Linked DNA regions of Homo sapiens. The protein of the gene in region 1 interacts with the protein of each later gene in a biochemical or structural test. Each region holds a gene or a part of one and is shown on either strand. Other genes may lie near its edges. The genes, in order: RPRD1B and RPAP2.

Evidence for each region.
Region 2: the proteins of RPRD1B (region 1) and RPAP2 interact in a biophysical measurement, tested with the Homo sapiens proteins (one study listed by IntAct).

The regions. Positions count from the first base shown.
Region 1 is NC_000020.11:38,085,741-38,089,657, forward strand, and holds part of RPRD1B (regulation of nuclear pre-mRNA domain-containing protein 1B), read left to right. Parts: intron 1-956; exon of another isoform or gene 957-1,106; intron 1,107-2,122; exon of another isoform or gene 2,123-2,271; intron 2,272-2,368; exon of another isoform or gene 2,369-2,680; intron 2,681-3,917. UniProt on the Homo sapiens protein: Interacts with phosphorylated C-terminal heptapeptide repeat domain (CTD) of the largest RNA polymerase II subunit POLR2A, and participates in dephosphorylation of the CTD by RPAP2. Transcriptional regulator which enhances expression of CCND1.
Region 2 is NC_000001.11:92,301,900-92,305,816, reverse strand, and holds part of RPAP2 (putative RNA polymerase II subunit B1 CTD phosphatase RPAP2), read right to left. Parts: intron 1,841-3,917; coding exon 1,742-1,840; intron 1,534-1,741; coding exon 1,468-1,533; intron 1-1,467.

The DNA.
Region 1 (3,917 bases):
GGGTCTGCAAGACCCAACTGAGAGAGCTTAAGAACCAGAGAATTTGGAGGCAGGTGAAGGCTGGAGTTGTATTTGGGGGAGTTTTGTTTGGAGTCAGTCTTTTTTTTTTTTTTTTTTTTGAGACAGGGTCTCACTCTCACCCAGGCTGGAGTGCAGTGGTGTGATCTTGGCTCACTGCAGTCTCCACCTCCTGGGCTCAAGCAATCTTCCCACCTCAGCCTCCTGAGTAGCTGGAACTATAGGCATGTGCCACCACGCTTGGCTAATTTTGCATTTTTTGTAGATGGGGTTTTGCCATGTTCGGGCACAAGTGATCCACCTGCCTCAGCCTCCCAAAGTGTTGGGATTACAGGCGTGAACCACCTTGTCTAGCCTGGAGTCACTGTTAATTTCTTCTGTTGGTCCATGGCAAGGTTTACAGATGACTTTGTTTGGAAAGCCTGAATCTGTTTTTAAAAGCAGGGATGGGGAGTGGGAAATCACAGTAGTTACTACTTGAGTCTATTTAGTGGACTATAAAAATTACTATAGCTTCAGTTTAACCTAATCAGAGCTTGCCATGAATTCGAGCCTGCTTGCCTCTCTTCAGGAAATTAATCTGGGTCATTTGACTGTCCCAGTTAAGCAGGTACATGTTTTAACAGTTTTAAAGGCAATTGCTGCCTGTATTTGGTTTTTCAGAGTATATACCCGGTTATCCTTGCCAATACATTTAAACCTCTTAGCCTACAGATCTTTTCTTTTTACCAGCCTCAGTGTTTTGTGTTTTTCATTTTTTTGTGGAGACAGGGTCTCTATTTCCCAGGCTGGTCTCGAACTCCTGGCCTCAAGCAGTCTGTCTGCCTCAGCCTCTGAAAGCATTGGGATTAAAGGCGTGAGCCACCATGCCCAGGCCAGCCTTGATGTTTATTAATCCTTTTCAGTGACAGTCTCACTCTCCCTCTTTCTTTCTCTAGTGATTCCTTCCTCTGACGCCTGCTCTTACAATAGGCGTCCCTGCGAGAAGAGTCACCCAGTGGCATCAAGAGCTCTGGGCAGGATCCGTCCACTTCCAGAGTGGCCTGAAGAGTGGAACACATTTCTTTTTAGTTAAATGAGTTTCTTCGGTAATGTCCAGAATATAATAGCCTAAGCATGATGGAATCCCCCGTACCCCACCCTATACCCCCTTCCAAACAGAAACAACTGTTGTTTGGTTTTTTGGGGTTTTTTTTGTTTTTTTGTTTATTTTTTTGACACGGAATTTCACTCTGTTGCCCAGGCTGGAGTGCAGTGACACAATCTCAGCTCACCACAACCTCTGCCCCGCCGGGTTCAAGCAATTCTCCTGCCTCAGCCCCCTGAGTAGCTGCGATTAACAGGCACCCACCACCCTGCCCAGCTAACTTTTGTATTTCTTAGTAGAGATGGAGTTGCACCATGTTGCCCAGGCTGGTCTTGAACTCCTGACCTCAGGTGATCTGCCTGCCTCGGCCTCCCAAAGTGCTGGGATTATAGGCATGAGCCACTGCGCCTGGCCACAACTGGGATTTTTAAGAAATTGCCTAGGAGAGAGTTAGTTGAACTTAAGGTGGTGTCTAATTAGAGCAAAGTGCCTTCCATTTTAACTTCAATGAACTTGCCACGTTGGTCTGATGATAACCCAAGAGTAAGGAGTCTTGGATTCTGATCCCAGCTCAGCTTCTAGAGACTTGGTGGTTTTCAAATTGTTCTTGAGGGACTCCTTCAACTGAAGGGCTCCCTAGTTGCCAAGAGTGGTTGGTTCTGAGTCGAGGTGGCTTTGATTTGTCAGCTTTGGTCAGAGAATTCAGGCAGGGGGCAGGAAGTCCGTGTTCTGTAGTTGTTTTGTTATTTTACCCTTTTTATACCTTCCATTCAGGAGAAGTTTATTAGATGAATCCGTGTCCAGAAATAGAGAATTAGTTGCCTTCATCCTTTATATTAATTTCCCTTGAAGTATAAACAGCCAAAGAAGAAAAGTACTTGTGGGAGAAAGGGGGTTCAGATCCTCAAATTTGAAAATAGTTTTCAACTTCAGGAACGTGAAAGGTGACTGTTAACCAAAGTCTGAGTCTCAGGAGCTACTTCATGTGGTATGCTTTTACCTGATGTTATGTTTTAGATATGGCTCATTCATTCGGCACATGTGCTGGGTGCCTACTGTTTGCTGGACACTGCGGAGCCTGGTGGATGCTGGGGGAAGCAGATGGGTCTGGTCCTGGCCTCCAGGAGCTTACTAGTTAAATGTGGGAGTCATTGCTAATCATTTACGTAAGTCATTGTTTAATTTTAGTTGTGGTAAGTTTACAAAGAAAAGAAATGGGCTGCTAGGAGAGCTCACTCTCTACCCTTTTCTCTTCCTTTGTAGACTGTGTGAGGAGCTCTCATTGCGGGTGGGAGACTGATTGCCTGCAGTAATGGGGAGAGGATATGCCTGGTTCCCTCCTCTCACTCCTTGCTTGGACTTTTGTCTTTACAACTTGAACTAAGTATTCTCCATTTGACCTTTTTCCTGCCTCATTATTCTTCCCAGACATTCTCTAGCTTCTACTTTCTGCCTCTTCAGGTGTGCATCAGGGATCTGGTATCAAGGAATTTAGAACTTGAAAAGAAGTGTTATGGTCCAGTTCCCTCACTTTCAGATATGGAAGAAGGGAACACATCCACGGTCACACAGCAGGTTAGAGGCAGAACCAGGACCAAGCCTAGGTCTCTGCATCTCAGCCCAGGGCTTCTTGTTACATTCCTGCAGGAAGGGCTTTCTAAGTCAGCAGGGGCCCAGCGTCAGGGACCTACTTACCCTTGCAGAGACACTGAGAGGACAAAAACTAAGCCCCAAGGGGGCCAACAGCCCCAGACTTCACATGGCCTAGGGTTGTTTTCTATATATCTTGGCAGATTTATCAAGAGTACCTTTTTCCGGGAGCTGAGGAAAGAAAAAAAATATGCCCCATTCCTATCATTAGGGGATTCATATTCTAGAGGAACATAGAAGTCTCACATGTATGGAGAGAGCATAGAGCAGCTTGCTAGGGGCTCAGGTACACACCCTGTGTGAGGGAGAGCTCTGGAGCAGGAGGAGATGCGGAGTCGTCTCCTGGATGCAGAGCAAGGATTTTCCTAGAGAGGTGGAGTCCAGATAGTCCAAGGAGCAGAGGAGTGGAGGCCAGGCTTTGCTAGGGCTAGGAGAAGAGAGAGACCCCCTCCAGGCTTGCGGGGAATCCTGAAAAAATGGTCCACACAGACAAAGAGGGTTAGGAGGTTGTGAGGCAGGGGCTGATTTTGTAAGACCTTGAACTCTGCTCTGAAGGACCAGATCATGGAGCTAGTGGGGTGCCGTGCCTCACTTTCTCAAGGGAGTGGTTTCATGAAAGCTGGGCTTTTGGGAGAGAAGTCTGGTGGCATTTTAGGAGCCCTAGGGGTCAGGAGGCCTAACCAGGGACTTACTGCAGTGACTCAGTTATGGAATGAGGAGGCCCTGGTCACAGGGAGTAGCAGTGGGGTATTTTGAGCTTCTATAGTGCTTGTTTGCAAAACATGATAAATTTAGGTTAATCTCCAAGCTTTAACATAGGAAGTATAACTTCAGTGTTTTTTTTCTTGCCATATCTAGGTGGAGTCCGCAAAGAAATTGTGAGGCTCAGGTGTCTGTTTTATTTTATAAAGCATTTTGAAACTTTTGAGAACCAACAAAAAGAGAATGCAAATACCAAGTGTTATTTCTTTCTACTTCCAAATCTCAAGCCCTAAATTGAATACCATTTAATTCACTGTTGCCAATATGGCACTCTGCGTTCCTTTTTTGATAGAAAGTTTTGCCTTTTGAGCATTTGAAGCCCTAGCTTTGTGATATAGCTGAACAGGGTGGGCAGGCTGGTGGGGACAAGGAAGAACACGAGGACGAGAGTAGCTGCCCG
Region 2 (3,917 bases), on another chromosome or scaffold:
TAACATTCGCAATTTTGTGGGCTGTGAAAACAAAACTCAGTGTGTTTTTATTTGCTATTTCTCTGATTACTGATAATATTTAGCATCTTTTCATATGTTTATTAGCCATTCAAGTTCCTTGTGTAAATTTTTCTATTAGTTTGTCTGTCTTTTTCTTATAGATCATATATTCTAGATATGATTCTATGGTCAGTTAACATTCTGCTTTGTGGCTTCTCTTTTCATTTTTTTTTTGAAACTTCTGATGAACAAAAGTTTTACATTTTAATATAGAAATGTTTATCAGTTTCTCCTCTTTGGCCTATAATTTTCCATCTTATTTTATGAAGTCTCTCTACCCCAAGTTTATATCTTCCCATATTGTCTTTTTTTTTTTTTTTTTTTGAGACGGAGCCTCACTCTGTTGCCCCGGCTGGAATGCAGTGGTGCGATCTCGGCTCACTGCAAGCTCCGCCTCCCGGGTTCACGCCATTCTCCTGCCTCAGCCTCCCGAGTAGCTGGGACTACAGGCGCCCGCCATCACGTTTGGCTAATTTTTTTGTATTTTTAGTAGAGATGGGATTTCACTGTGTTAGCCAGGATGGTCTCGATTTCCTGACCTCGTGATCTGCCCGCCTCGGCCTCCCAAAGTGCTGGGATTACAGGCTTGAGCCAGGGCGCCCGGTCTATTGTCTTTTTTTTGAAGACAGTGTCTTGCTCTGTTGCCCAGGCTGGAGTGCAGTGGCATGATCTCGGCTCACTGTAACCTCTGCCTCCCAGGTTCATGCGATGCATGTGCCTCAGCTTTCTGAGTAGCTGGGACTACAGGTGCGTACCACCACCTTTGGCTGATTTTTGTACTTTTTGTAGAGACAGGGTTTTGCCGTTGCCCAGGCTGGCCTCCAACTCCTTGAGCTCAGGTAATCCGCCCCCCTTGGCCTCCCAAAGTGCTAGGATTACAGGTGTGAGCCACCACGACCAGCATCTCCCATAGTGTCTTCTACCTTTTACATTTATGTCTTTAATCTACCTAAAATTGATCTATGTATAGAGACTGAGATAGGCATCAATTTTAATTTTTTCCATTTGCATAACTAATTGTGCCAGTATAATTTATTGAAAAATCCATCCTTTCTCTACTGATCTACAATACTCCCGCTGTCATATATCAAGTGTCTACATATGTGGTTAGTCTGCTGCTGACTCTCTATTCTGTTCCATGATTTATTTGCCCAGATTTGTGCCAATATGCACTTTTAAATGTTCAAGTCTTAATTGAAGCTTAAGCAAAAAAATTTTTAATACCTTGATTGAAATATTTACAAATAAAATCAAACTTTTAACATCACTATTTTCTAACCAGTAAGATTTTAAAGTTTCTTTTAGAATCCTATTTAATATCATTAAAAATTAATTGCCATGCCTTGTTAGGATAGTGGTTAGTAAAGAAAAAAAATTAATTGCCACAATGAAAGCCTTTAAACTCACCTTTCTTTCAGTAATATCATAGACTTTATTGGTTTTGGTAGAAATTTTATATTTCTGTTTTGGTACCTAAAGAAAAGAAAGTACAGCTTACAAAAGAATCCAAATAATAAACATGAACGTTATGTTACAAGATTAAGTCATCTACATATCATATCATTGGCCAATCCATGCCTTTAGTTCATGACCTTAGGTTTTATTTCTTATTCTTACAACAAAGTATTTTGCTAAATGAAAATAATAAAAGCCTATATTTTAAAAAAAATGAGTTACTTACAATTCCCAGCTTCTTCTGACATAAAGGATAACCACAGAGTTTGACAATAGAACGTTCATCCACGACATCACTGTAGTGAGCAGGTGTAATGAACCTCCCCTAAAATGAAATGAGAGGGTTATTTCCTCCTAGTTTAATAGAAAAGTTCATTTATCAGCTCTCTAAGCCTCATCAATCTTATCTGAAAACACAGGGATAGCAATAGTACCTTCCTCATAAGTTAGAGGTTAGAATTAGAGGAGAAAATAAAGCAAAATCACTTAGAGAAGTGCTCAACATATAGTGAGCATTCAAAAAAAAAGTTATTATTAAAAAAATTTCTGCCACAGTAGTCTCTGCATCTTTGTAGATTATATAGTTAAATGAAATAATTCTGAGGCATGAGGAAGAAGTGATGCTATAGCTATACACAAGCTAAATGACAACAGTATCTTTTATTTTTGAAAAAGTATTATTTAAAAAATTAACTAAATCACAAAATAATAAAATATAATTTTACCTATTTTTTAAAGCATAATCTTTAAAAACAAAGTATTTCAAAAGTGTCATTGTTACTGCAGAACACAGTTTGTGCAAAATTTTCCTACTTCTGAAAAATCTGTACAGAGTGGTGAGGTGATGGTTATAAGCTAACATCAAATATTTTCCTTTGACATCTTCATGATCAAATAATTTTGATTCTTGTTCATAACTTTGAGATCTTTTAACAAGTTTTTCTGTTTTCACAGAGACAGAAATACTTTTTATTGAGAGTGATGTAAGTTTTATGTTTCAAATGAAGCATATTTGCCTTTGTCTTTTCTGGTGTCATCAAATATGCAGATTCTGATGCAGTTACCTGTGTCAATAAAAATATGAATTGTCATGTTCATATTCCTGTTTAGAAAAAGATCTATCAACTACACTAAGAAGTGTTTTTGTAATAGAAGCTTTGAGTTTTAATTTGCCCTCTTAAGGATTACAAAAATATAAAGAGAAATTTCCATTCAAAATTTTAATGTAGTAAAGCTGTTTCAAAATTTTTTTATTCTCAAATTTTTATTTAGACAGGGTCTCGCTGTGTTGTCCAGACTGGTCTCAAACTCCTGGGCTCAAGCGATCCTACCGCCTTGGCTTCCCAAAGTGCTGGGATTACAGGTATGAGCCATCGTGCCTGGCCAAAAAAAAATTAATGCGGGCCGAGAGCAGTGGCTCATGCCTGTAATCCCAGCACTTTGGGAGGCCGACGCGGGCGGATCACGAGGTTAGGAAATCGAGACCATCCTGGCTAACACAGTGAAATCCCATCTCTACTAAAAATACAAAAAAATTAGCCGGGCGTAATGGTGGGCGCCCAGTCCCAGCTACTCGGGAGGCTGAGGCAGGAGAATGGCGTGAACACGGGAGGCGGAGCTTGCAGTGAGCAGAGATCCCGCCACTGCACTCCAGCCTGGGCGACAGAGTGAGGCTCCGTCTCAAAAAAAAAAAAAAAAAAAAAAAAAAAAATTTAATGCGGAATTTAATTCTCCCGTTTTATGTTGAGTCATAAATGAGCTGTATTTCAGGTTTTTGAAATAAGAAAATTGATGAAATTACATTGACAAAAATAATATTCTTCTGTTACTTAAAATAACACAACACAGAATATAGAAAACTGGAATTGCAATCATTAGAACAAATTGAAGAAAATCAAGTGATATTAGCAGACTGGTTAAAAGAACTATGACTAAGGGTAAAATATATTTGCTTTTTCTTTTTTTTTTTTTCTCCCCCATCCTCATTTTTCTTTTTTCCCATTTATTATTTATATACTTATTTTGAGACAGAGTCTCACTCTTGTTGCCCAGACTGGAGTGCAGTGGTGTGATCTCAGCTCACTGCAACGTCTGCCTCCTGAGTTCAAGTGATTCTCATGCCTCAGCCTCCTGAGCAGCTGGGATTACAGGCATGAGCCACACCTGGCTAATTTTGTATTTTTAGTAGAAACGAGGTTTCACCATGTTGGCCAGGCTGGTCTCGAACTCCTGACCTCAAGTGATCCGCCTGCCTTAGCCTCCCAAAGTGCTGGGATTACATGAGCCATTGTGCCTGGCCTCTTTTGCTTTTTAATTGACAATAATAATTGTATATATTTGTGGGGTAGTATGTGATGTTTTAACACATGTATACATTGAGCAAATCAGGCTAATTAACATAT